2 separate regions of the Homo sapiens genome follow, and region 2 is linked to region 1. Evidence: fine-mapped expression QTL. A gene starts in region 1. The other region holds a variant in brackets. All regions are shown on one strand. Distances are from middle to middle.

What was found. PIP is the estimated chance that this variant, and not a neighbour inherited with it, causes the effect. A credible set is the group of variants that fine-mapping cannot tell apart.
Region 2: its variant is the best candidate, but not a certain one, in a credible set for the expression of TNKS2 in esophagus mucosa (GTEx, PIP 0.69).

The regions. Positions count from the first base shown.
Region 1 is chr10:91,789,943-91,805,147 of GRCh38, forward strand. It overlaps TNKS2 (tankyrase 2), which reads left to right and starts at 8,484. Exons shown (of 27, transcript NM_025235.4): 1 at 8,484-8,947. The coding sequence starts at 8,749. It overlaps TNKS2-DT (TNKS2 divergent transcript), which reads right to left and starts at 8,349. Exons shown (of 2, transcript NR_108071.1): 1 at 8,295-8,349. RefSeq lists an enhancer at 8,193-8,362 and a silencer at 8,443-8,852.
Region 2 is chr10:91,877,243-91,892,447 of GRCh38, forward strand. No RefSeq gene overlaps it. Among named protein-coding and RNA genes, the nearest start is that of FGFBP3-AS1, 23 kb to the right of the region's middle. RefSeq lists enhancers at 3,870-4,371, 4,372-4,871. The variant C/A (reference allele first, on the strand shown) is at 7,553.

The sequences.
Region 1 (15,205 bases):
AAAAATATCCTTCAAACATGAAGGAGAAATAAAGACTTTCTTAGACAAACTAAAGCTGAGGGATTTCATCAACAACAGACTTGTCCTACAAGAAATGCTAAAGAAAGTTCCTCAATTTGAAAAAAAAAAAAAAAAAGGATGTTAATGAGCAAAATGAGCAATAAGAAATTACCTGAGGCCGCACACGGTGGCTCACACCTGTAATCCCAGCACTTTGGGAGACCGAGGTGAGTGGATCACCTGAGGTCAGGAGTTCGAGACCAGCCTGGCCAACATGGTGAAACCCCATCTCTACTTAAAATACAAAAATTAGCCAGGCGTGGTGGCAGGCGCCTGTAATCCCAGCTACTCGGGAGGCTGAGGCAGGAGAATTCCTTGAACCTGGGAGGCAGAGGTTGCAGTGAGCCAAGATCGCGCCATTGCACTCCAGCCTGGGGGACAAGAGCGAGACTTCGTCTGAAAAAAAAAAAAAGAAATCGTCCGAAGTACAAAACTCACTGGTAATAGTAAGTACACAGAAAAACACAGAATATTATAACAGGGTCATTGTGATGTATAAATACTCATATCTTAAGTAGAAAGACTAAAAGATGAACTGATCAAAAATAATAACTACAACAACTTTACAAGACAGTACAATGAGGTATAAATAGGAACAACAAAAAATTTTTTTAAAAGGAGGAACAAAGTTAAAGTGTGGCGTTTTTCTTAGTTTTGTTTGTTTATGCAATCCATGTTAAGTTATCATCAGTTTAAAATAATGGGTTATAAGATATTATTTGCACGCCTCATGGTAACCTTAAGTCAAAAAACATACAATGAATACACAAAAAGTGAAAAGCAAGAAATTAAATCATACCACCAGAGAAAATCAGCTTCACTAAAAGCAAGATAGGAAGAAGGGAAAAAAAGGAGGAAAAGACCAGAAAACAAATAACAAAATGGCAGGAGTAAGTCCTTACTTGTCAATGACATTGATAGCAAATGGACTAAACTCTCCAATCAAAAAACATAGAGTGGTTGAATGGATTTAAAAAACAAAATTCAACAATTTGCCTATAAGAAACACACTTCACATATAAAGACACATACAGACTGAAAGATAGTTTTCAAGACAAAAACTATAAAAAGAGATAAAGAAGGTCATTTTATAACAATAAAGGGGTCAATTCATCAAGAGGATATAACAGTTGTAAATATATGTGCATCCAACACTGGAACACCCAGATATACAAAGCAGATATTAGAAAGATAGATACCAATACAATAATAGCTGAAGACTTCAACACCCCACTTTCAGCACTGCATAGATCATCCAAACAGAAAATCAACAAAGAAATATCAGACATAATGTGCACTATAGACCAAATGGAACTAATATGCATTGACAGAACATTTTATCTAATGGCTGCAGAATATACATTCTTTTCCTCAGCAAATGGGTCATTCTAAAGGATAGACCATATCTTAGGCCACAAAACAAGTCTTAAAACATTCAGAAATTGAAATAATAGCAACTGTCTTCTCTAACCACAACGGAATAAAACTAGAAATCAGTAACAAGAGGAATTTTGGAAACTATACAAACACATGGAAATTGAACACTATGCAACTGAATGAACAGTGGGCCAATGAGATTAGGAAGGAAATTGAAAAATGTCTTGCAACAAATGATAATGGAAATACAACATACCAAAAATAATGGAATAAAACAAAAGCAGTATTAAGAAAAATATAAACCTGTAAGCACCTACATCAAAAAAGTAGAAAAACTTCCAATAAACAACTTAATGATGCGTCTTAAAGAACTATAAAAGCAAGGGCAAACCAAACCTGAAGTTAGAAGAAGAAAAGAAACAATAAAGATCAGAGCAGCACTAAGTGAAATTGAAATGAAGAAAGCAACACAAAAGATCAATGAAACAAAATGTTGATTTTTTTGAAAAGATAAACAAAATTGACAAATCTTTAGCCGACTAAGAAAAAAAGAGAGAAGATTCAAATAAAATCAGCAGTGAAAAATGAGACATTACAATTAATACCACAGAAATTCAAAGGATCACAGCCAGGTGCGGTGGCTCACACCTGTAATCCCAGCACTTTGGGAGGCCGAGGCGGGTGGATCACGTGGTCAGGAGATCGAGACCATCCTGGCCAACACGGTGAAACCCCGTCTCTACTAAAAATACAAAAATTAGCCAGACGTGGTGGTGGGCGCCTGTAGTCCCAGCTACTCAGGAGGCTGAGACAGGAGAATGGCGTGAACCCGGGGAGACGGAGCTTGCAGTGAGCTGAGTTCGCACCACTACACTCCAGCCTGGCAACAGAGTGAAACTCCATCTCAAAAAAAAAAAAATTAAAAAAAAAAAAAAGAAATTCAAAGGAACATTAAAGGCTACTATGAGCAACTATATGCCAATATATTGGAAAACCTAGAAGAAATGGATAAATTTCTAAACACATAAAACCTATCAATCTTGAATCATAAAGAAATCCAAAACCTGAACAGAACAATAACAAGTAATGAAATCAAAGCCATAATAAAAAATCCTCCAGCAAAGAAAAGCCTGGGATCTGGTGGCTTCACTGCTAAATTTTACCAAACATTTAAAGAAGAACTGATCCCAATCCTACTCAAACTATTCCAAAAAACAGAGAAGGGAATACTTTCGAACTCATTCTACAAGGCCAGTATTATCCTGATACCAAAAAGAAAAACACATCAAAAAAAGAAAACTACAGACCAATATCCCTGATGAACATTGATGCAAAAATCCTCAACAAAATTACTAGTAAACCGAATTCAACAAGACGTTAAAAGCTCATTCATCATGACCAAGTGGGATTTATCCCAGGGATGAAAGAATGGTTCAACATACACAAATCAATGTGATACATCATATCAACAGAATGAAGGACAAAAAGCATATGATCATTTCAACTGATGCTGAAAAAGCATTTGGTAACATTCAACATCCTTTTATGATAAAAACCATCAAAAAACTGGACATAGAAGTTACATACCTCAACATAATAAAAGCCATATACAACAGACCCACAGCTGACATCATAGTGAATAGGGAAAAACTGAGAGACCTTCCTCTAAGATCTGGAACACTGCAAAGATGTCCACTTTCACCACTGTTATTCAACATAGTACTGGAAGTCCTAGGTAGAACAATAAGACAAGAGAAAGAAATAAAGAGTATCCAAACTGGAATAGAAGAAGTCAAATAATCCTTGTTTACAGATTATATGATCTTATATTTTGAAAACTCTAAAGACTACCAAAAAGCTTTTAGAACATATAAACAAATTCAGTAATGTTGGCTGGCTGCAGTTGCTCATGTCTATAATCTGAACATTTTAGAGGCCAAAACAGAAGGATTGCTTGAGCCCAGGAGTTCAGGATCAGCATAGGGAGACTCCATCTCAAAAAAAAAAAAAAAAAAAAAAAAAATAGCTGGGCATGATGGTGCATGCCTGTGGTCCCAGCTACTCAGGAGGCTGAGGTGGAAGGATTGCTTCGGCCCAGGAGATTGAGGCTGCAGTGAGCCCTGATCACACCACTGCGCTACAGCCTGGATGACACAGTTAGACCCTGTTTCAAAAAAAACAAAACAAAACTCAGTAAAGTTACAGGATACAAAATCAACATACAAAAATCAGAAGCATTTATATATGCCAGCAGTGAACAATCTGAAAAAGAATTCAAGAAAGTAATCCCATTAACCCATTTATAATAGCTACAAATAAAATTAAATACCTAGGAATTAACCAAAGAAGTGAAAGATCTCTACAATGAAAACTAAAAAACATTGATGAAAAAAACAATTTTCAAATTTATACAGATCCACAAAATACCCATAATAGCCAAAGCTATCCTGAGCAAAAAGAATAAGACTGGAGAAATCACATTACCTGACTTATCAAAACAGCATGGTAGTGGTATAAAAACAGACAGACCTATGGAACAGAATAAAGAACCCAGAAATAAATCCATACATCTATAGTGAACTCATTTTTGACTAAGGTGCCAAGAACACATATTGAGGAAAGGACACCATCTTCAATAAATGTGCTAGGAAAACTGAATATCCATATGCAGAAGAGTGAAACTAGACCCCTATCTCTCACCATATACAAAAGTCAAGTCAAAATGGATTAAAGATTTAAATCTAACACCTGAAACTATCAAACTACTAAAAGAAAACACTGGAGAAACTCTCCAGGTCATTGGACTGGGCAAAGATTTCTTGAGTAATACCCCAGAAGCACAAACAGCCCAAGCAAAAAATGGACAAATGGGATCACATCAAGTTAAAAAGCTTCTGCACAACAAAGGAAACAATCAACAATGTGTAAAGACAATCCACAGAATGGGAGAAAATATTTACAAACTATTCATCTGACAAAAGATTAATAACCAGAATATATAAAGAGCTCAAACAACTCAAAAGGAAAAAAAAAAAGTCTAATAATCTGATTTAAAAATGGGTGAAAGATCTGAATAGACATTTCTCAAAAGAAGACATACAAATGGCAAATAGAAGAGGGCGCGGTGGGTCATGCCTGTAATCCCAGCACTTTGGGAGGCTGAGGTGGGCACAACACTTGAGGTCACGAGTTCAAGACCAGACTGGCCAACATGGTGAAACCCCATCTCTACTAAAAATACAAAAATTAGCCAGTCATGCTGGCAGGTGCCTGTAATCCCAGCTTCTCGGGAGGCTGAGACACGAGAATCGCTTGAACCCGGGAGGCAGAGGTTGCAGGGAGCCGGGATCGTGCCATTGCACTCCATCCTGGGCGACAGAGTGAGACTCTATCTCAAAAAAACAAAAAACAACAACAACAAAAAACCCAAATGGCAAATAGACATGTGAAAAGGTTCTTGACATCATTGATCATCAGAGAAATGTAAAAAACATTTTCTTTGCTCATCCAAAACTACAGTGAGATATCATCTCATCTCAGCTAAACTGGCTTTTATCCAAAAGACAGGCAATAACAAATGCCAACAAGGATATGGAGAAAAGGGAACCCTTGTACACTTTTAGTGGGAATGTAAATTAGTACAACCCCTATGAAGAACAGTTTGAAGGTTCCTCAAAGAACTAAAAATAGAGTTGTCATATGATCCAGCAATCCCACTGCTAGGTATATACCCTAATGAAAGCAAATCAGTATATTGAGGAGATATCTGCACTCCCATGCTTATTGCAGCACTGTCCACAATAGCCAAAATTTGGAAACAACCTAAGTGTACATCAGCAGATGAATGGATAAAGAAAACATGGTGCATATACACAATGGAGTACTATTCAGCCATAAAAATGTATGAGAGCTTATCATTTGCAATAACATAGATGGAAATGGAGATCATTATGTTAAGTGAAATAAACCAGGCAGAAAAAGACAAACTTTTCATATTCTCACTTATGTGGGAGCTAAAAATTAAAACAATTGAACACATGGAGATAGTAGAATGATGGTTACCAGAGGCTGAGAAGTGAAGTGGGTGGGGGATGTTTAATGGGTACAAAAAATAATTAGAAAGAATGAATAAAACCTATTATTTGATAACACAACACAGTGACTATAGTCAATAATAATCTAATTGTACATTTAAAAATAACTAAAATAGTATAATTGATTGTAATGCAAAAGATAAATGTTTGAAATGACTGATACCCCATTTACCCTGATATGATTATTAGGCATTGAGTGATAGTATCAAAATATCTCATATACCCAATAAATATATACACCTGTGATGTACCCAAAAAATTAAAAATTCAAACAATTTTAAAAATTAAAAATAGATATTTTGTTGCTAAAAAATGCTAACAGTCATCTGAACCTTCAGCAACTTGTCATCTTTTTGCAGTTGGAGGGTCTTGCCGCAATGATATCGAGGGCTGCTAACTGATAATGGTTGCTGAAGGTTGGGGTGGCTGTAGCAATTTCTTAAGAGAAGCTAAAATGAAATTTGCCACATCGATTGACTGTTCCTTTCACAAAAGATTTCTCTGTAGCATACAATGCTGTTTGATAGCATTTTACCCACAGAGCTTTCAAAATTAGAGTCTATTTGGGTGTTGAAACTTAATGGCAAAACAAACAAAAAAATAGAGCCTATCTCTCAAGCTCTGCTCCTGCTTTATCACCTATGTTTAAGTAACATTCTAAATTCTTTGTTGTCATTTCAAAAATTTTTACAGCATCTTCACCAGGAGTAGGTTCCATCTGAAAAAAATTTTTTTTTGCTCCATAAGAAGTAACTCCTCATCCATTCAAGCTGGTTTTTCTGTTTGTTTTCAGAGACAGGGTCTCTGTCACCCAAGCTGTAGAGGAGTGCAGTGACATGATCACAGCTCACCATAGCCTCAAATTCCTAGATCCCTCACATGTGCAGTTCACAATAGGGTTTGCGCTCCTGTGAAAATCTAATGCTGCTGCTGATCTGACAGGAGGTGGAGCTCAGGCGGTAATGCTCACTCCCCGCCCATCCCCACCCTGCCTCCATCCCCCGCCCTGCACCTTCTCTGCTCACCTCACGCTGTGCGTCCTTGTTCCTTACAGGCTAGGGACCAGTACCGGTCCAAGGGCCGGGGGTTGGGGACCCCTGTTCTAGTTAACTTGCTGCAGCTCCTACATCAGTATTTGCTGCTTCACCTTACACTTCTATATTATGAAGACAGCTTCTTTCCTTAAACTTCATGAACCAACCTCTGCTAGCTTTTAACTTGTCTTCTGCAACTTCCTCAGGTCTCTCAGCCTTCACAAAATTGAAGGCAGTTAGGGCTTTGCTCTGGATTCAGCTTTGGCTTAAGGAAATCTTGTGGCTGGTTTGACCTTCTATCCAGACCACTCAAACGTTCTTCGTATCAGCAGTAAGTCTGTTTCACTTTCTTATCATTCATGTGTTCACTGGAGTAGCACTTTTAATTTCCTTCAAAAACTTCTCATTTGCATTCACAACTTGGCTGTTTGGTGCAAGGGGGCCTATCTCAGCTTTCAACATGCCTTCTGCACTAAGATGAATCATTTCTAGCTTTTGATTTAAAGTGAGAGATACGCAACTTTTCCTTTCACTTGAACACCTAGAAAACCATTGCAGAGTTCTTAATTGGCCTAATTTCAATATTATTGTGTTTAAGGGAACAGATAGGCCCCAGGAGAGGGAGAGAGATGGCAGAGTAGCCTGTCAGTGGGGCAGTCAGAACATACACATTTATTGATTGATTGCTGTCTTCTATGGGTGTGGTTTGTGGTGCCTCAAAACAATTACAACAGTGATTTCAACTTATCACTGATCATAGATCACCATAGCAGATTTATGGGAAGAAAAATGATAAACGCAATCATATTGGTAGTGTTCTAGTCCTAGGTTCGTTCATGCATGTTCATGTTATTGATAAGCACCATAACTTCAATTTCATATGTATAAAAATGCTCAAAAAAGTGTACATCCTCTTTTAGCACTGTAGTGAGTCAACATTCCCCAACAAAAACTGGATTTCCTGAAAAACAGGTTAAGGTAGGAGGTTGGGGGGGGGATGCTTTTCAGAATGGCAAAGGTCAACATGTATCATCTTCTGTAAGTAAAATGTATGTATAGGCATACCTTTCTTTCAGTTTAAGACAAGGGGGTGTAGTGGGGAATTATCGTGTAAAACTACACCAGTATCTTAAGCATGAAAATCAATTATATGCTTTTCTTTTGTTTGTTGGTCAAAGAAAAAGATTATAACTCAGAAAACTTTCTTGGAGATGCGTATGCTCAGTGTATCCAAACTTTAGGCATGTCAGGTACAATATTGATTTACAAAAAGTTCCTCTAATCAATCCTGAGCTAATAACTTACTGTGGAAAGAGTAATTGATCAGAGCCATCCCTCCAATTGGAGTCAACTTCCATGACTGTTCGGATTTCCTTTATTTTGGGGGCAGTTCATCCAAACTTCTATTAAACGGCAACTAGTTCACTTTTGAGAAGTGGTTTACAAGAAACAACAACAACAACAACAAAGCAGTTGCGGAGGAAAGAAAAGAGACAAAGTAAAAAAAACGGAAAAGAAATCTCCCAGGAGAAAGGGATGTGGAAGCTGAAAACACGGACAATTTCCACAGTAAGACTTCCAAAAGAATGTGCAAGATCCGAGCAAAACTTTCAAGGGCTCTTTTTCAGTGTAATGGTAGTGAGAAAGTTCAGCCTGGAAAGCCCAGGGCTTAAAACAACAACAACAAAAAACACAATATGCAGGATCGTTCGGCTTCAGCAGAACCCACCGCAAAGATGGCGGTGGGACGAAGCCCCTTCTCCCGCCGCCGAAGCCTCTCGCCTCACATTTCCCACAAACCCTTCGCGCCGCCTCGCTAGCCGAAACCTGCCCAGCCGGTGCCCGGCCACTGCGCACGCGCGGGACGACGTCACGTGCGCTCCCGGGGCTGGACGGAGCTGGCAGGAGGGGCCTTGCCAGCTTCCGCCGCCGCGTCGTTTCAGGACCCGGACGGCGGATTCGCGCTGCCTCCGCCGCCGCGGGGCAGCCGGGGGGCAGGGAGCCCAGCGAGGGGCGCGCGTGGGCGCGGCCATGGGACTGCGCCGGATCCGGTGACAGCAGGGAGCCAAGCGGCCCGGGCCCTGAGCGCGTCTTCTCCGGGGGGCCTCGCCCTCCTGCTCGCGGGGCCGGGGCTCCTGCTCCGGTTGCTGGCGCTGTTGCTGGCTGTGGCGGCGGCCAGGATCATGTCGGGTCGCCGCTGCGCCGGCGGGGGAGCGGCCTGCGCGAGCGCCGCGGCCGAGGCCGTGGAGCCGGCCGCCCGAGAGCTGTTCGAGGCGTGCCGCAACGGGGACGTGGAACGAGTCAAGAGGCTGGTGACGCCTGAGAAGGTGAACAGCCGCGACACGGCGGGCAGGAAATCCACCCCGCTGCACTTCGCCGCAGGTAACCGGGGCCAGCGTCCCCTCGCCTCGCTCCAGACCCCACCTGCGCAGCCGGGGCCCACAGGTCTGAAACCAGTGCTCCTCCGCCTCCCGACCTTTCTCCAGGACTCTGGTCCTGGTGATCTCGCTCTCTTCCAGTGGGGACTAAGGAGATTAGGGGTAGGGTGAGCGTGCCACACTCGCTGGAAGTTTTTTGTTTTGTCTTGGTTTGGTTTTTTTGCCAGGTGTTGGGGGTGGTTTGGGGTTTTGGCTTTGTTTTGTTTTACAGTATCAACAATACCTGTACCAACTTCCGGTCTTGTTACCCTAGAAGGCCTCTACACACAAGAAAGAGTAGGGGACGTAGTTGATAGACCTTATGATTTAAAAGGTCAGTTACCTCCAAAATTTTTCGTTCTTGCAAGTTCCATTTGGGTTAAGGTCTTGAAGGACTTTGTAAAATACAAGGATGTAATTTAGGAGGAGTAGCTTAATAGGACGTTGACACATTAGCGTTAATTGGTTTATCAGAATAGCCAATCATTACCAAGTTTCTGGAGTGACTAGAACGGGAAATAGGCAAGTTTGGGAGAACTGAAACCTGACTTAGGCTGGGTGCGGGAAGCCTTAGACACACACACATACAAGTTGGGCGGAAAGTGGTAGTATAAGAGAAAAGATAGTGCAAGTACTTTAGCTTGAATCTAGAATTTAAGTTGGGACTAACCTTGCTTCATTCTGAAATTTAGATCGTTTGAATTACATTATTTTAATATTTATTAGGTTCACTTTATGATTTAAGCATATTAAATTTAGTCGAAAAATTTAAAAGAGCCATAGATGGGATATTCAGCTTATTCCCATAAAGCATGCATGCTGTTCACTTGTAGGAAAGATGATGACTGTTTCTAACTTCAGGTGAGTCATGCGTGATTGAAAATGGGAGTACCTCCTCTTACCTCTGACAATCCTGGTTTTTTGTTTTGTGTATTTCATGATTGTTTAAAACAATTTTTTGAAAAATCGGGGAATACCTTTTAAAGTACTCCTGTTCTTTTGGGGCTAGATTGATGAAGAGAAAAGGAGCAGTGAGAAATATTTCCTCTTTCACAGATATTACTTTTACACTTTCTACCAATTGGAGATTTGTTCGCTTTAACCTGTTCCAGATTTTAAATGTAAATACTACCAGGAGGTATGCTTTTTTGATCAATTGCACCTTTGTTGGATTTCCATTGGGGAGTCTTTTAAAAAGAAGAAAGTTTAGGGAACCTAGGTGGGAGAACTAGAAACGGTTTGTGGGCAATGGAAAGAGAAGGAAGAATACTTAAGTCAAACACACCTAGTTAGCCTTTTTGCCCGAAATTTCGGTGGTAAGTGCTGCCGTTCTTCAGCTAATTTAGGTTGTCCTGTTTGACCATGTAGTCAACATTTAAACAACTCATTTGGCAAACTGTCACGATCAACTGATACATAAGCCAAAGGGTAGGGTTACTTAGATTCTGTTCACTTGATCTGTGGGATAAAAATAACCAAGAAAGATCTTAGTTGCTACCTTTCAAGAATTTGGTGTATTAGTGAGTTCATATCTGAAAATAGTAATATTTAGAGGTGTAAGATTATGTTATTAGATCCTCAGTGACCTTGTTCCTTCTCTGCCTTCCCACCTTCAGTTCTGTCCCAACGTTTCAAAGCATATTTTTTACATAGGTTTCATTTTGTTCAAGTTTGGAAGACTTAATATTTTGGAAACCAACCCACCCCTCACAACTTACCCAAATTATCAGGTATAGGTTATCAGATTAAGAGTTAAAGGTATAAAAAGGGAGTAATAAAAATTATGAAGTGGGGGTTCTTCATTCAACCAGAGCTTTTGAAGTCCTGCACTTCAATCATATAAGAAACTTTTTTAAAAATTGGGTTTGTAAATTTAATCTGAATTTTAGGTTCATCAGAGAGAAGCTTTTTAAGTGCATCCAGCTACCTTTTCACTTAATATATGGAGAATATACTTTATAATCTGTTGTAGGTAGTGAGTTATCAGTCATGTTAATGTGCCTGCAAGCATACTGTTGGAAGTTCAACACAGGTGGTGGTATTATGTAACTGCCTGATCAAGCAGTTTCTTGTGTTTGTACTTCAGTCATAGAGTGAGCTATTGGAGGTGATGGGGGACATCATTATTTTAAAATTTTTTTAGCTGATTAAAGTTTGGAGATTTTACTGGGGGAGGCATGTTTTTGTCTTTTTGTTTTGATTCCCAAGTAATATTAGGACTGAGAGATTCGTGCAGACCACAGAAAATGAAAATTAGTTTAGAAAACATTTGCTTTAATTTCATCCCCAAAAGTTAGTTCAATTAAAAGAATAATCCGTTGCTAGCACCAAGAGAGTTAAATTCTGTTAATGAAGAAGATAGTCAACATAAACAGGAATTTTCCTTCTACTAGGTGTTTTTTTATTACTGAACTAGATTGCATACTTTTCTTCTAGATAAATATTATTTAAGAAGTAATTCCTTAGGAGAAAAATGACTCTGTAAATTGTTTCCTTTTCAGTCCGCCTGCCACTGCCCCCGACCATACGCAGATATACACAAGACAGGAATTTTTCTTTTTTTTTTTGAGATGGAGTCTAGTTCTGTCTCCCAGGCTGGAGTGCAGCGTCACGATCTCAGCTCACTGCAACCCCCACCTTCCGGGTTCGACCGATTCTCCTGTCTCAGCCTCCTAAGTAGCTGGGATTACAGGTGCGCACTGCCACGCCCGGCAAATTTTTGTATTTTTAGTAGAGACAGGGTTTCAACATGTTGGTCAGGCTGGTCTCAAACTCCTGATCTCGTGATCCGCCTGCCTCGGCCTCCCAAAGTGCTGGGATTACAGGCGTGAGCCACTGCGCCCGGCCAGGAATGATTTTTTTCCAACACAACAGAATTTGTAGAGGCAAGTTGGTGGTAGGGTGGCTGTTGCTCTAATTTTACTAAAAGCAAAAGTATCTGAAATTCTTGACAGTTAATGCCCTAGAAAACAGCAAATTTCAGTAAAGAAGACTCTGCTTCTGTGAACTTATTTCTAAAAAGTAAAGAAGAGGTGACACAAACTTGGGGAGAAAGTTATCTTGATGCCCATCATAGAAATGAAAGAAATATGTGGCATTCCTTACAATCTTAGAACTCTTGGAGTAGGGGTAGGAGCTTGCATTGTAGAGTCCTAGCTAAACAAGGTAACACTTATTTTATATTTATAGTATGTTATGTTACTGTTAGTATGAGTATGCTACTGAACCACATACATAGGACCAGTTAGACCGGACTTGGATTATTATATTCAATTGTGTGAATCAAATATAAGAGGGGATTTTTTTATTCAGAGGAGGAAAGTGGAATCAGAGCATCCAGAATTTATTGCACAAGCATAGATACGAAAATTAGTGCTGCTTATTCTAGAGATGAAAGAAGACTATACCATGTTATCGTCTTCACATATGTGGAAGAATCACAAAGAGTGAGTGGATATTACTTGTGTGGCTTTGGGAGTCAAAACTAAGGCCAGCAGGTGGAAGGTTACAAGGGGTCAGACAACCTTTAACAATATTCAGCGATCGAACTGTCTGGAAGTATCCAAGCAGTGGCTGGATTGGCATTTTTCAGAGATGTTGTAGAGAGGATTTCAGCCTAGTTCGACCAACAGGTTATAATCTCACTAGTACAAGAAAGTGGGATGATTCCTCCAATTGAAGGCTTTAGCTGCTCAGCTACCAAAGATATACTAGCTTTTGTGATTGCCATTCATATCTTTTCCCAAAATGATAACCATTGGAGACCTCCAATAACCTCTCAGTAACATTTTCTTCTTTGGCTGTAGGCCAACATCATAGTTACAAGAGATGCACAAAATTTATCCAACACTCTTCACCTAGAACTACAGTTATAGATTGTTGTTTTCAGGATTGGTTTTTGCTATGGGAGATAAATCATACATCAGCAGGAAACCCTAGTGTCAAATAAAGATCAGTCTATTTAGGAATTCATCATCTTTCTTGACTTATCAAATCTCCCAATGTATTATCAAGACTTTGAGCTATACCTTTGCCCTCAGCGCTTGCTGGATTTGGAGGTAGACAGTTGACTTCAATAACAAGAGTTTGGAGTACTCCTTTCAGTGTACCCCCATTCAGATGGTCAAAATTTCATCACCGTAGAGGCCATGGCGTTCTTTTCCAAGTTTCTACTAATCTGGCCAGACAGTATGTCTATCCCAAGTTGAGATGGGCAAAGTCCTCTCCCTTGTATTCTTCGTTCTTAAGAAGTATATGTGGGAAATAATTTTCTGGATCTTAGCAAACTAAAGTTAATAGTAAATGAGGCCCGGGCACAGTGCCACAGGCTATAATCCCAGCACTCTGGGAGGCAAAGGCAGGAGTATCACCTGAACTCAAGAGTTCAAGACCAGCCTGGGCAACAATGGTGACACCTCATCTCTACAAGAAAATAGAAAAATGAGCCGGGCATGGTGGCACAGAACTGACACTCTGGGAGGCAAAGACAGGAGTATCACTTGAGCTTAAGAGTTCAAGAGCAGCCTGGGCAACATGGCGAAACCCCATCTCTACAAAAAAATAGAAAAAGTAGCCAGGCATGGTGGTGCAGGCCTGTAGTCCTAGCTACTTGGGAGGCTAAGGTTAGAGGATTACTTGAGCCAAGGCTGCAGTGAGCCGAGATTGCGCCATTGCACTCTAGGCTGGGCAACAGAGGGAAACCTTGTAACACAAAATAGTAAATGAGAAGTTTAAAATGACATTCCTCAGAAAAAATGTGTCACTGAGAGTCCTGGCTAAAGGTTGCTTGAAAGCTGAAGGCTGTTTGATTATACCTTCCAATCTCCCAGACTACAGGAGCTTTGTTTTGTGGCATTTGTTGACATTTTTCCAGAACTTTGCCTTTGGACAAAACCCTGTGTGATAGCCTACCTTTAGATATTGCAAGACATCACCATCTCATATGGGACCAATTGTGTTATCAGTGATTAATCCCACCTTTGGACTATGAAAGACAGGAGGGGGATAGCATTTAGTTAAACTTCCTAAGAGTCTAAGTTGGTTTCTCTGTAGGAACTTGACTGCCTCACAGCTTTTGGGAAACCATTCAGATGAAAGCATGTTTCCAGTGTAGCAGCAAAATGTGATATTATTAACAATAGTCATAGTTAGCAAGCAGTACCTGGAGTTGCTGAAACTGATGGCATCTAGATAAGTAATAAATTTGACAAGAGGCTGCTTTTCTCTGTTTTCACAAATCATTAACACCATATTCTTTGTGAGGATCCTTTCCTATTCCAGCAGAGTATTAGACATGCATTAAACAAATGTTTGTCAAGTCCTGCTATATGCCAGACACTGACCTTGTCCCTGAGTAAACTGAAATGAACAGGACACAATACCTGCCATTAACTGACACATGGTTAATGTGGTCAACAAGTATACTTTACAGATAGGCCTGCTTTGCTTCACTGTAAGTACTATATAGTAGATTCATACTCTGTGTATGGTTTCATCAGAATTTTCACAAGTAGAACAGTGTTTGAAGTTGAGTGCTGTTCCATAATTACAAAATAAACTACAGTGTGTCCTGAGCAGCCATGACTACCAACTTTATTTAGGCTTCTGGTTCCTCATAAAGAGATCCTTAGAATATGGAGATTTACATTGACTCTGATGATATGCCTATTCATGTTCTACCTGGCCAGTGAGAACATGATCAGAATATACCCTGCAGAGCATTTTTTCTTCCAGAAATTGGTGCTTAACAGAAGTACTTTGAACTATTCTTGAGACCATAACAATAGAGATTTTATCAAGGATTACTCCTCAGTTTGGGAAGTATGGTTTTTTGGGGGTTGTGGGGGTGAGGCACAGAGTTTCACTCTTGTCGCCCAGGCTGGAGTGCAGTGGTGCGATCTTGGCTCACTTCAACCTCCACCTCCCAGGTTCAAGCAATTCTCCTGCCTCCTGCTTCAGCCTCCCGAGTAGCTGGGATTACAGGTATGTACCACCACGCCTGGCTAATTTTTATATTTTTAGTAGAAACAGGGTTTCACCATGTTGGCTATGGTGGTCTCGAATTCCTGACCTCAGGTGATCCACCCACCTCTGTCTCCCAAAGTGCTGGGATTACAGGTGTGAGCCACAGTGCCCAGCCAGGAAGTATCTTCAATCTAAAGATTTCGCCAAACTCCAAGCAACTTTTTTTTTTTTTTTTAAACATAGCTACCTATTGACTGCC
Region 2 (15,205 bases), 87 kb after region 1:
GCCGTATTTATGTATTTTTTACATATCAAATTAAAATTTTTTATTTAATCATATCTCTTAATTTTCATGTTCTTCTATATGTCCTCATCTTGAGATCATATAAATATTCATCTTCATCATACCCTAGCTCTATTTTTCTTTAAATATTTGACTCCTAGATCTATTTGGAATTTATTTTAGAATATGAGTGAAGTAAAGATTTGACTTAATTTTAATTTTTCCCTAAATCTTTTGTATTAGAACCACTTATTATATTATTTATTCTTCTCCCATTGATTTGAAATACCATTTTTTATTGTTCCAATAATTGTCACTGTTTCTTCTTGTAATAATAACACATATTTTAATTATTATTATAACTTAATAATATATAAAGGATCCTCCTGCTTCAGCCTCCTGAGTAGCTGGGACTGCAGACAGAGCATCACCTGTAATGCAAATTCAGGGAAGGAGTCTTAACACTGCATCTTGTTTACGTGGTACACACTTTTTATGCCTGTTGTCCCCTAAAGTGAAACCCATTACTTTGGCTAATGCAACCTAAATTGAGATATTTTATTCTATATGATGGAACACTATGCACCCATTAAAAATAACCTTCCCTAGGCCAGGCATGGTAGCTCACACCTGTAATCCCAGGACTTTGGGAGGCCAAGGCAGAAGGAAAGCTTGAGGCCAGGAGTTCTAGACAAGCCTGGGCAACATAACCAGACCCTGTCTCTAGCAACAAACAAAAAATTAGTCAGGCATGCTGATGATGCTCTGTCTATAGTCCCAGCTACTCAGGAGGCTGAAGCAGGAGGACACTTTAAGGCCAGGAGTTTGAGGCTATAGTGAGCTATGATCGCACTACCATACTCCAGCCTGCGAGACAGAGCCAGACCCTGACCCTTTAAAAAAAAAAAAAAAAACGCTAGGCATGGTGGCTCACATCTGTAATCCCAGAACTTTGGGAGGCTGAGGTGGGAGGGTGGCTTGAGCCCAGGAGGAGTTCAAGACCAGCCTGGGTAACATGGCAAGACCTTATCTCTATTATAAAAAGAAATATAGGCCAGGCGCAGTGGCTCACATCTGTAATTCCAGGTGTGATTTAAGTCAAATCCTTACTTCACTCATATTCTAAAATAAATTCCAAATAGATTTTGGGAGGCCAAGGAGGGTGGATCACTTGAGTCAAAGAGTTAGAGACCAGCCTGGGCAACATGGCAAGACCCCATCTCTACCAAAAAATATAAAAATTAGCCAGGCATGGTGGTGTGTGCCTCAGGTCCCAGCACTCAGAAGGCTGAGGTGAGAGAATTTCTTGAGCCTGGGGGGCAGAGGTTGCAGTAAACCATGATAATGCCACTGCACTCCAGCCTGAGTGACAGAGGGAGACATTGTCTCAAGAAGAAAAAAAGAAATATATATATATAATATACATTATATAATATATAGTAAATATATAATATACAGTAATATAATATATATTAATTGTATAACCTTTTCCAAATAAGTTTTTTGTTTTTTTTTGAGTCTCGCTCTGTCACCCAGGCTGGAGTGCAGTGGCTGGATCTCAGCTCACTGCAACTTCTGCCTCCCAGGTTCAAGTGATTCTCTTGCCTCAGCCTCCCAAGTAGCTGGTATTACAGACATGCGTCACCATGCCCAGCTAATTTTTGTATTTTTAGTAGAGACAAGGTTTCACCATGTTGGCCAGGCTGGTCTCAAACTCCCGACTTCAGATGATCCACCTGCCTTGGCCTCCCAAAGTGCTGGGATTACCGCGCCCAGCAGAAGAAATTTATTAAAATGTATTGGATATAATATTAAAAGATTTAGGATAAACAATATGATCCCACTTTGTTAAAGCAAAAATAACAAATCACCTGTCTACATGCATAGAAAACAGATTATCAATAAATTAATACACCAAAATGTTAATGGCAAGCTATCTCTAAGTAATGGGATGATGGGTGATTTTTACTTTGCTGTATTTTTCATCATTTTCCAAATTTTCTACAATAAATATGTGTTACCATTATAATCAGAACAATCAGTAATCATTATGACTTAAATGGATATTTTAAGGTCCACTCCAGTCCTGGTTAGGGTGGTTGGATTGTCAATCTCACCCCAAAGACGAGACGGCTCTTTCTCTCCATGAGAGCAAGGATGGGCATCCAGCCCTGAAAAGGGATGCATTCACCACTTCAGTTCAGTTCTTTTGATTGGGAGACACTGCCATTAGATATTAAATGCCAAATAACATCATCTGGAATCACATGGTGACCCTTTGTGTTGCCAGCTGGGAGAGGGGTGTGTGGCATCACCTCCCACTTACCCTCTCCAAACCCCACCCAGAAGGGCTGGGAAGACACAGAGATAGTGTGGTACTTCAGGGTGGTATGCTAATGCAGGCCTCTAATCCTATCAGGAACGCTTAGGGTGTTAATTTGACCATCTTTCACAGCTCATAAATCTACTGAAGCAAAGCCAAGCTGCCAGACACCATCAAGCAAAACTCCTTCTGAGGCTGGCAGTTGGAGTAAAGCAGCCGGGATCATGCCACAGTAAAGTCCAATAAAGAGCTTTGTATGTGGGGGACTGGAGAGCAGCTTCTCACATTTGGATACAATAGAACAAAACAGTGGGAAATGTGAATGTCTGATTAGTCAGACTGGTGGTCTCCCCCATGCCCCCCCTGCCCACTGAGCCATAGATCCTCATTCATTCACAATTCTTTACACGCAGATGGATCTATCTTGCTCCCAAACAATCGCCGGCACAGACTCCCATCGGATTAGTTTGCTTAATCCCTGTGTGTAAATACAGACCAACTGTATTCACTTCCATTGGAATCTGCTAGCCTTTTTATATTAAAACCTATTTAACTTCAGTCAAATCACTCCTGCCTAGATCCATTCTCTCTTTATTCGGTGGTCAGAATGGAAACATTCTTCTCTTTCAGGAACAGAGCATTCCCCCAGAAGAGTTCCCACTGTTGACAAATAGGTGGGGTTTAAAACTGTCAACAGAAATCAGTGGCAACCTCCGGATTACAGCTTCATCCAGAGTCCATCTGTTCCTCAAATCAATCTGTTTAAAAATCGGCTGATTAGGGATTCTAAGTAAAAACATCCTTTGGAGCATCCATTTCAAGAGACATTGAGGCAGGCAGTTAGATTTTCATCAGCTTCCTCTTTGGTCCACACCTCTTGGAGGGCAAGTTGCAGCAGTTTTCTGCCTCTAGGGACAGAAATCTCCTCTGACCGAATCTGCAGGCTGGCAGGGGTGGGGAGGGAGTGGTGATTCCACATGGTCCAAGACTGGAAGTACCAGAAAAACTGAAGAAAGACCCACCCATTCTGCAGTTCTGTACAGGCAACCAATGACATTCCCACAGAGTGTGAGCAAAGACTCCTATTTCCTCAGGGCGGACTTACTGCATGCCAGGAGCCCAGCACATTTAGGAGTTTCCAAACACAGTGGAAAAAGGAATCAGAAAAGATCCTCCACTTACTGGCCTTGGGCCTTGGGCAAGTTTCTTTAACCCTTGAGCTCTAGTGTCCTCATCTGGAAAATGGATTTAATAATATTTTCTATGTGGGATTATCTGGCTCATAGTACAGGGATGTGATACATGCCAATTACGATTTTTGATAGTGTAGTTTGAAAAATAACTGTTATTGATACTATTATTAGTGGTGGTAAATTTCAAAAATAACTATGATTATTGATATTATTGTTGTTGCTGATAGTGCATTTGATAAATAACTATGTTGTGGTTATCATTATTGCTGGTAGTGCACTGTTAGCTATTGCTGTCTCCATATAATGATGAACAGACTTTAAAAGAACTGAGTAAAGACCATATAAGCCCATTCACTCACCTGGCGGGTGTTTTATTGAACACCTTCTATTTGCCAGGCATTATTCTAGACACTGGGGCTACATCAGTGGAATCCATCCTTGTGAAGTTTACCTTTTAGTTGGGGGAAGACTGACAATAAAAACAAGTAAGTAAATTATATTGAATTTAGAATGTGATTAGTGATATAGGGGAAAATAGAGCAGGGTGGGGAGGATTGGGAGTGAGCTGTGAGAGAAGGGGCTGGTGCAGCGGAATTTAACATGAGGTGGTTTGGAAGGCCTCACTGAGAAGGTGGCATCTGAACAACTGTAAAGGAAGTGGAGGAGTAGGCCGTGGGGAGTGTTGGGGGAAAAGCATTCTACGCACAGAACAGCAACTGCAGAAGCCCTCAGGGGATCCTGCCTGTGTGCTTGGAGAAGGCTGGAGTGGGATAGAGTGGGAAATCGTGTCACAGATGCAAAGGTGGGTCACCCAGGATCAAGCTAGGCATTTTTAGCACTTTAGCTTTTTACTCTAAGTGAAATGGGGAGCCACTGCAGGGTTGTGAGCAAAAGCAGTGGCATGGTTTGACTTAAGCTTCAACAGGATCACTCTGGATCCTCTTTCCCGCTTGCAGACAGCTGCCTTCTCACTATGCCCTAACATGTTGTGAGGGGGGTCCACCCCTCATGATTGAAAGAAAGAAAAATTAATTCCTCGTCTATGTCAAGGGGCACAGTGAGAAGCAGTTGTCTGCAAGCCAGGAAAAAGTCCTCACCAGACCTCGGTCATGCTGGCACCCTGATCTTAAACTTGTTGTCTTGTTTTCAAGGTCACTAATCCCATCATGAGGGCCCCACCCTTATGACTTTATCTAAATCTAATTACCTCCTAAAGGCCCCATCTCCAAATACCATCACATTGATGGGTAGAGCGCCTGTAGTCCCAGCTACTCCGGAGGCTGAGGCAGAAGAATCACTTGAACCTGGGAGGCAGAGGTTGCAGTGAGCTGAGATTGTGCCACTGCACTCCAGCCTAGGCAACAAAGTGAGACTCTGTCTCAAAAAAAAAACAAACAAAAAAAAGAATCCTTACACATGTATTTTTCCATAGTGGCTTTAGAATCAGTTTGTAAAATTTCACACTTCATCCCTCAAATAGGTTGACATGTTATTAGGTCATGAAAATTTTGTATATTAATTTAGGAAGAAATTAAGTTATATTATTGAATCTTTCTGTACAAGAATAGTATATAAGCAGACTGGGGAACACAGTGAGACCTGGTCTCTACAAAAAATTTTTAAACAAAAATTAACCAAGTGTAGTGGCATGCACCTATAGTCCCAGCTACTGAGGAGGCTGAGGTGAGAGGATTGCTTGAGCCCAGGAGGTGGAGGTTGCAATGAGCCGAGATCTCACCACTGTACTCCAGCCTGGGCAACAGAGTGAGATCCTGTCTCAAAATAATAATAATAATAATAATAGTGTCTCTAAGTAACAATTCTTCTCATTGTTACATTTATTCTTAGGTATATATTTTTTGTTATTATATAAATGGAATATTTTCTTCCATTACATCTTATAACTGCTTTTTATGTATAAATAGGAAAGCTATTAATTTTTATTTATTAATTTTATGTGCACCCATCTTACTGAATTTTTTTATTGTTTGAGATGGTTTTTCAGTTGATTTTCTTGGGTTCAGATAATATCTGAATTGGAAGTAAAAATAATTTTACTTTATCCTTTAAATTTTTTAAACTTTTTTTTTCTCTTGACTAATAACATCAGCTACTATTTGCAGAACAATGTTAAATAGTGATGGTGGGCAGTCTTATCTGGTTCTTGACTTTAAAGAAATGTTTCTAGTGTTCTTCCCTTAAGCATGAGGCTGGCTTTTGGCTTATATATAAAGTTGACTTATATATTTTAGTTACCAAAAGTGATTCTTACCAGAATCGGCTGGGGAATCTTCAGGTTAAAAATAGTCTTCTGCAGCCAGGGCAACTAGTGAAACTCCATCTGTACCACAAAATATATATATATATATATTTTTTTAATAAGCCGGGGGCAGTGGCCTGCTCCTTTAGTCCCAGCTACTCGGGAGGCTAAGGCCGGAGTGTTGCTTTAGGCCAGGAGTTCAAGACTGCAGTGAGCTATGATCCTGCCACTGCATTCCTGCCCAAGTGGCAGAGTGAGACCCTATCTCTAAAAAAAAAAAGGTTCCTGAGTGTTGCCCAGAGGGTCAGTTTCAGAAGGTCAGAGTGGGGCCCAGAAATCTATATTTTTCCTGAACTTCCTTGGTGGTTCAGATACAAGTAACATTCAGCCCAGACTTGAAGAATTCCAGTGGATAGAAAGCACTTTAGAGTCAGCTCTGGGCTCAAGAGGGCAGCTCTTTCCCCCCATGTCATTTACTCCCTCTGAGCCTCAGTTTCCCATGCTGCTAAAAGAGGGAGAATAATCACATATGCCCTGGCGACTGGAAGAGGGGCTAAGAGGCTCAGATGAGGTAATGTCTGTGAAAACATTTGGCAGACTAGAAACGGCATATAAATGTGAGGAGGCGTGACCTCACTGTGCCCAAGAGGAAAGATATTTGGAAAAGCCTGACTGATTTTCAGGGCTCGGCGACAGCTCCTAGCGAGACTTGGACAGCCTGCTTCAAAACCCACACTTACATTCCACGAAACACGCTCTGCTTCCTTGTCAACAGGCTTTGCGTCATGTTAGGTCAGCTTCCACTGCTCAGGGCTTTGTGCTGATCATGCATTACGGGTTGGCTTCAGAGGCACAGACACCTTACCGCCTGTGTGTGATCCAGGACTAATGAAAAAAGTCCTCTCCGGCCACACCCCGTTCCCTGCCTGGTCCCCGTGGAGTCTCCGGCATTTGAGAGAGCTTTTGTGGCTTGAATCTAAGTCACAAAACTCCCCCTGCTAATCCCATGGGGTCACAGTTGGACCTAGTGCTTCAGGGGAGGACCAATAAGACAGAATCCATTTTGCATTTCCCTTCCTGCTTTCCTACGGAGAGATGTAAAGGTCCCTAGAGGTGAATATAATAAGATAGAGCCAACGTGGGGATGTTGCTCCCTGGGGCGCTGCTTGAGTGGTGTGACATCATGTTCTTAGTCTGAGCTTCAATAGATCTCTTAGAATGTCAGAGACCCGTCTTCTCCTAGAAAAGGAGTTCCTACCCTGTGGTCTGTGAGCTAATGAAAATGCAGGCTGCCTCAGCCTGGATTAAAAGAGGTTTTCTTTCCCGTTTCCCATTTAAAGACCCTGTAGGCTTGAAATTACCATTTAAAGCAGGAGATAAATTGCCAGAGGCCATTTCATGCCAAGGTACATTACAGAGCAGAATGTCAAAGTGTGCTTAGCCAGGAGACAGTGATGGGCAAATCCTGCTCTCTGAGAGCAGCAGGCATAAAATGTGGCCCCCGGGTAGAGGGAGGGCCCTTGCTTCCAGCCCCCATACCTTGTCTCCCTTCACCAGCAGGAATATTCTTTCTTTTGTGGCCTCTTGTTTAGGCTGTTCTTGACCTTTCATAATTAAAATACTCTGAATTTTGGCAGGCCTTGCGCTTTTTTTTAATAAAGAGGGGGAAGCCATTTGAAGATAGAAACAAAATTGCTTGGATGGTTGCCTGTGAAGTTACAATTATAGCAATGACTGAAGATGGAGAACAGGAATTGAGAGAAGAGGGATTTTTTTCCC[C/A]TAGCTGCCAAAATGCTGGATTTTATGTCCTTCTGTGAGAGCCTGCCATTATACATTTTAGACCCTAACTCATCAACAGTGAGTGCTAAAAGACATTCTTGAGGAAGGACTGGTTTTTGGATACATCTAAATTTTTATTAGCTTTTGTTCCAGTATCAGTAAACATTCCTGAGTGCTTACTAGAGGCAGGGCAGTGAGAAGCAGAAGGACGAATCAAAGAACAATTATATCCTAGCACCTGCACCATGCCTGCTGGCCAAGTGTTTTCCTTGAGAAAACCTAAAAACCTTAGCTTCCCTCCCTTTGCCTTAGTAATTCCCCAAACTTTGCTGTTCATTGGAATCACCTGGAATGTTTTTTGGAAAATTCTGATCCCAGACTCTCACGCTAGACATTATGATTTGATTGTGGGGAGTTTTTTAAAGCTCCCCAGGTGATTCCAACGTCCAGCAGTGTTGGAGACCCACTGGCCTAACTTCCGCTCTTTCTTCAGGTTTCAGTTTAGCATTTCTTCCTTCAGGAAACCTGCCGGAATTCTCCTTCTTCCCCCGTCTTCACACAGCTGTGACCCCGAACCCGTGGAGTATCGCTCCTTGAGGGGCTCCTGCAGCACCTGGTACTTGGCCTTGGTGATATGGACCACTTGATTCAACACTCTTCCTCTGGTTGAATGGGACATCCCTGAAGGCAGGACCAATGGCCCGCTCATTCTCCAGAGCCTGGCTCATCATGAGCCCTTGAAGTACTAATTGAAGGAGTAAATTCACATTCTCCTTGGACATTTCCTTTCACTCTTTCTGTGCATGCTAATTTACTTTCTCTAGTAATAATAAATGTCATTTTGTTTTGCATGCTGCTATGGTTTGAATGTTTGTCCCCTCTGAAATTCATGTTAAAACTTAATCCCCAATATAACCATATTAAGAGGTGGATTAGGGTCAGAAGCGCTCTGCCCTCATGAATGGATTAATCCATTGATGGATGAATAGCTTAGTGGGTTATCACAGGAGTGGGTTAGTTATCATGAGAGTAAGTCTGTTATGAAAGCCAGTTTGGGTCTCAGTGCACCCCCACCCCCCTTGCCCTATGATGCCTTATGCCATGTGATGTTGCCGCATGGGACCCGCACTGGAAGCCAACCAGACGCAGTTGCCAGATCTTGGTCTTTTCAGCCTCCAGAACTGTAGGAAATAAATCTCTGTTCTTTATAAATTACCCAGTCTTGGGTTTTCTGTTATAGCAACATAAAATGGACTGACGCCCACTTAATCACACTGTCTCTAATTTTTATGGTCATTGAGTCATGTAATAAAAGTGAAGCATTTACACTCTTTTAATTTAATGTATTTATTCTTTTGAAACAGAGTCTTGCTCTGTTGCCCAGGCTGGAGTGCAGTGGGGCAATCTCAGCTTACTGCAACCTCCACCTCCTAGGCACAAACGATTCTCATTCCTCATCCTCCTCAGTAGCTAGAATTACAGGTGAGCGCCACCACACTGAGCTAATTTTTGTATTTTTAGTAGAGACAGGGTTTTCCCATATTGGCCAGGCTGGTCTAGACCTCCTGACCTCAAACCATCTATCCACCTGGCCTCCCAAAGTGCTGGGATTACAGGCGTCAGCCACTGCCCCTGGCCTCTTTTATGCTTTACTATATTTATTTTATTTATTTATTTATTTATTTATTTATTTATTTTGAGATGGAGTTTCGCTCTGGTTACCAGGCTAGAGTGCAATGGCACCATCTCTACTCAGTGCAATCTCTGCCTCCCAGGTTCAAGCGATTCTCCTGCGTCAGCCTCCTGAGTAGCCGGGGTTACAGGGGCATGCCACCACACCCAGCTAATTTTTGTATTTTTAGTAGAGATGGGGTTTCATCACACTGGTCAGGCTGGTCTCGCCCACCTAATCCGCCCGCCTCAGTGATCCGCCCGCCTCGGCCTCCCAAAGTGCTGGGATGACAGGTGAGCCACCGCACCTGGCCTCTTTTTTATTTTTTATATATTTTATAAGATTTTTTAAAAACAGTGCCAGCTGAAGCTGTCAAATAAAAAATCCCACAATGTGGTTAATCTCAAGAGAAGGTTAAATGATTAGACTTCGTTCTGGAGCATTATTTGTGAAAACATGTATTTTCATTTAGGTCTCCATAGACCTAAAACCTGATTTTCTCCCTATTATTAAAAAGGTTTATATTTTGTAAAATATGCTTCATAAATTAGACAAAGGCAAATCAATGAAAGTGTCTCCTTTTTGTTTGGTTAATGCGGATTTAATGAAAGGGCACACACACATTTCTGAAGTTGTAGCTCACTTTATTGCCAAAATTAAGACAAAGAAACAAATCTGCAAACAGAGGGGCCCCTGTAACATCATCGCAGGGGTCAGATTACAAGGCTGGGAGACAGGGGCCTTCAGAGCCACGGTAATTGTCCCCACGTTCCGGGCCCCTGCGATGCCCACAGACTTCTTAATGTCTCTCTTTGTAACACCCCAGGGCCGCGTGAATAGCGGGGAAGGTAACGTGACTGCGGAGCTCAGGGCCGGCCCGGGAGGGGCGCGGGCCTGGCCAGTGGGAAGGTCGGACGCCGAGGGGCGAAATCACCCCACCGGCATCAGACCACCGCCTCCATTCAGCGGAGGAATGTGGGCGGGCAGAGGACGCGCGGTCCCCTCGCCCGGCGTTAACCCTGTGCGCGCCGGGAGCTTCGCCCGGAGCATCGCAGCATCGCGCAGCGCCCGGAGCCCGGGGCCCTCACAGCTCCACCGGTGCCCGGAGCATCTATCTCCCCGCGGGCGGTGCTGCCACTCGCCACGTTCACATTCCTCCACGTGCACGCGTGACTCTTTTGGTGTTATTTTTAAAAATCTCACTATTTAATCGCCATGTTTACCTTCCCCAGAACCACATAGTCTCATCGCAATTCAAATAATTTAGAAAACATTTTAAGATAATCGTGGAGCCCACGAAGCCAGTGCAACGTAGGTGGCTTCCCTTGCTGGAAGTCACCGCACCGAGGCCAGAAGAAGGTAGCCAGCGCCCAGGCAAGCGCTTAAAACTGCAGCCTCCTCCACACCTTTGCACGTGGGGAAACCGAAGCAGAACCCTGTCTCTTTCACTTTTCTTCCCTTCGCTAAGACTTTTTTATATTTGTAAGTGGAGGCGCGATCCAGTTAGCTTTTCTCCAAACTTTTAATGTAGAAAATATGCAAATCTACAAAAAAGTTGAACGTGTAGTGCAGTAATACAATTAACACCTGTAGATTCTTCACCTAAATTCACTTCTTAGCATTTTGCCCTACTCGCTCTATCCTTTGTCTGTATAGAGAGATTCCTCTCTCCTGCATTATTTGAAAGGAAATTGCAGACCTCATGACAATTTGCCCCAAAATAATTCACATGCAGCAACTAGGAATAAGTACATTTTCTTATGTACCAACAACACCATTTATCACACCTAAGAAAATCAACGCTAATTTAATATCTCCTAAAATATAGTCCTCATTTAAATTTTCTTATTTTTCCCAAAATGCCTTTTAACTAAAATTTTTTTTAAATCCAGAATATGTTAAAGATTCATGCATTGCATTTCGTTATGTTATTTGCTTTTTATGATAATTTTGTTTTAAATTTTAATTATTTTCAGCCTGTATAGCATATTTCTGGAATTTAAATTTGGGGGCTGTAGTTATTCTAGAACTGTGTCTAGTTAGCACATTTAAAAACCAGGCTTTTGAGGGAAATTATTTGTTGCTGAGCTTCTGGTACACACAAAAAAAGGGAGGTTTCCTAAGCAGACCACATTTGCTTCCCTGGTCGGGGGTCTGATGCAATAAAACCCCCTTTCCCAGGATTTCTCTTCCAGAGTCAAATGTCCCATAAATAAAGACATTTAGTCTTTTCATTTTTTCTTACCTCCCGTTTAGATCTTGATGATTTTCTGCTGCTTTACAACAGCCCTGCCCAAACCCAAATTAAAACACTCTCTTTTCTTCTTCTTTTTTTTTTTTTTTTTTTTTTTGAGATGGAGTCTCGCTCTGTCGCCCAGGCTGGAGTGCAGTGGCGCAATCTCAGCTCACTGCAACCTCCGCCTCCCAGGTTCAAGCAATTCTCCTGCCTCAGCCTCCCGAGTAGCTGGGCCTACAGGTGCACCCGCCACCAAGCCCGGCTAATTTTTGTATTTTTAGTAGAGATGGGGTTTCACCGTGTTAGCCAGGATGGTCTCGATCTCCTGACCTCATGATCCGCCAGCCTCGGCCTCCCAAAGTGCTGGGATTACAGGCATGAGCCACCGCACCCAGCCTAACCATTCTCTTTTCTCTTGTTAGATGACAATTAAAAACATTTTTAGGTTGGGTGTGGTAGCTCACGCTGTAATCTCAGCACTTTGGGAGGCCGAGGTGGGTGGATCACTTGAGGTCAGGAGTTTGAAACCAGCCTGGCAACATGGTGAAACTCCATCTCTACTAAAAATACAAAAATTAGCCGGGCGTGGTGGTGGGTGCCTGTAATCCCATCTACTTGGGAGGCTGAGGCAGGGGACACTTGAACCCAGGAGGCGAATGTTGTGGTGAGCTGAGATTGCACCACAGCACTCCAGCCTGGGCAACAGAGCGGGACTCCCTCTCAAAAATAAAAATAAAAAAAATTTAAATCTTCACAAGCCCTGTTGCTCTTCTTATCCCATATGTGGACCTCGGAATTCTTTCCCTCTAACCCCATTGCCTTTTTCTCCACGCCTATCTATAACAAATGTCTATCAAGTGCTAGCTATACAGCAAACACTATATTAAGTGCTTTATACATATGTCATCCTCAGAACAGTCTTATAAAGTTAGCATCATTAGTATTACTTCCATTTTAAAGATGAGAAAATTGAGACTTAGGATAAGTAATTTGTCTCCTAAGTGTGACATGGCAAGACATCACTGGGTCTTGAACGTTGGTTATCTGACTCCATAGTCTACATTCTCAGTGGTCCCCAACCTTATTGGCACCAGGGACCGGTTTTGTGGAAGACAATGAAACTAACTGTCCCATCTCAGATCATCAAGCACTAGTTAATTTCTCATAAGGAGCACTCAGCCTAGATCCCTCGCATGCACAGTTCACAATAGTTCTCATTCCTATGAGAATCTAAGCCTCCGCTGCTCTGACAGGAGGTGGAGCTCAGGCGGTAATGCCCACTCGCTGGCCACTCACCTCCTGCTGTGCGGCCCAGTTCCTAACAGGCCAAGCTCAACCCGGAGGTTGGGGATCCCTGCTCAGTACGACATACTACCTTTGAGACTTTTAGCTTCTCCAGAGCCCTCCCTTTATTTAATACGTGAAGAGCCTGTAAAATTGGGAGGTATTTCCATACATCAGATTACTTTACTGTGCCACTATTTTCATAAGTCGTTTGGTAGAAAGTGGTGACACTCATGTGCCTATATTAAGCACGAGGCCAATATTTTCACTAAATGTCATTTAGGAAACCCATATCAGCTACTACCTCACTGAGGCATAGAACACCACTGGTGACACTCTAGGGAGTCAGAAAATATTAAATCATCCCCCAAGCCAGTAGTTCTCAGATGTCTAGAATTCCAAGACTAATAAAACCTTCTAAGACATTTTGGGGAAAGACATAAGGTTGCCACTTTGATACTTTGCCAAGTGAAGACATTAAACTTTTCAAACTACCATCTATAATACTAGCATCATCATTTTATTAAAAAAAAAAAAGGATATTTTAAACCCACCTGCCTCCACCCCTGCAAAAAAAAAAAAAAAGGACATAATCACAGAATAAAGAATAATCCTTAATCTGATCAATTCAGTGCTACCAAAATTCACTATATTGTCCTTGTTTTTCTCATTTTGTGGTAGACAGGTCTAAGCATCATCATGAACTGACTTTGGGTCTGCCCATAGAGGCTGGCACCATCATCTTACAAAGAAGGTGATGATTCATCAGGCACATCTTTATGTTAGCCAGAGTTACCGTGATGGAGTCTGCAGGCAAAGATGGAAGGGATTAGGCCCCTCTGTCTAACAAAAGCATGGAAAGTGGCTCCTCCTCATTAAGGCAGAAGCTCTGATGCATGTGGAAGGCTATGAATTTGGGACTGGTAGAAAGGCATTCTGGCTGAGCAGAAACAACGGATTAACAGAGACTAAAGGACTGAAGTATTTGGTGGAGGATGTTCAAGGTCTATGGCCTGATGATGAGACAGCTATGCTGTATTGGAAAGACCTTGGTTCAAGTTTCAGCTCTGTTTTGTGTCCTTGGAGAAGTCACTGAATGTCTCCGAACCTCTTTTCTCATTCACAAAATGCCATCAGATGAGGTAGATAAGAAGAGGATGTACAAAAAATGCTTTGTAAATTAAAAAAAATGATAAGAATTATTATTGTTGAGTTGTTTTGTTTTTTTGTTTTTTCAAGACAGCATCTGGCTCTGTCACCTAGGCTGATGTTCAGTGGCATGATCATAGTTCACTTCAGCCTTTAACTCTTAGGCTCAAGTGATCCTGCCAAGTAGCTATGACTACAGGCACATGTCACTACACTTGGCTAATTTTTAAAATTTTTTTTATTTCTTTAGAGACAGGATCTTCCTATGTTGCCCAAGCTGGTCTTGAACTCCTGGCCTCAAGTGATCCTCCACTCCTTGGCCTCCCAAAGTGCAGGGATTACAGGTGTGAGTCACCATGCCTGGCTGTTTCTTCCTTGTTTGTTTTGTTCTGTTTTGTTTGTTTTGTTCTGTTTTGTTTTGTTTTGCTTTTATGATAAAGACTTTAAAACAAGTATATGTGTTACAATTCTGGAGGCACAAGGATTTCATTTTGGAGCACTATTTAGATTTCATACAAGTTGGAAAACAAAGCAGTGGCCTTTGGAGATTTCATTCTTAGGCATGTGGGTAGAATACAGCTCCTCTCTGTTTTAAGTCAGTGCCAGTTCCAGGCTTCCTGGCCCTATCTAAGGGGTTGGTGCCTGGGAAAAGGCTGCAGTAAAGGTCAGAGGTGACCTTGCACAAGGGTAATGAGTCAGTGTGTGTGCATCCTTCATGCTCATGACAGTAGCACAAGCTTTTAAGAGGAGCAGTACTACCCTTATGGCCAGATGAGAAGGGCCACTGCCTAAGCCTGCTCTGGAGAGGGTCCTGCATATCACAAACACATTTACAAAAAAAATATTAAAGAGCACAAAAGTTCGTCCATCATTTGGGAGGGCTTGGGTCTGCCAGTACAACACGACCTGGCCATACTGTTTAGTCCCCAGGGAAATTCTTCTCCATATTTCTTGTCCAATGTTCTCAAAACAAAAGGGACTGCAGGTGACTGCTCCCGATGTTGGCAACTGAATTACTCCAGAGCATGATGAACTTGGTCGGCAGAAATCCTTGGGAATGAGAAAGGGTAAACTTGTCATGTCCTTCCTCTCTGATACTAGGAATGCAGTAGATTCTTGCATTACGACTTTTATTATTTTTTTATTTTTTGAGATGGAGTCTCATTCTGTGGCCCAGGCTGGAGTGCAGTGGTGCCATCTTGGCTGACTGCAACCTCTGCCTCCAGGATTCAAGTGATTCTCCTGCCTCAGCCTCCCAAGTAGCTGGGATTACAGGTGCGTGCCCCCATGCCTGGCTAATTTATATATATAT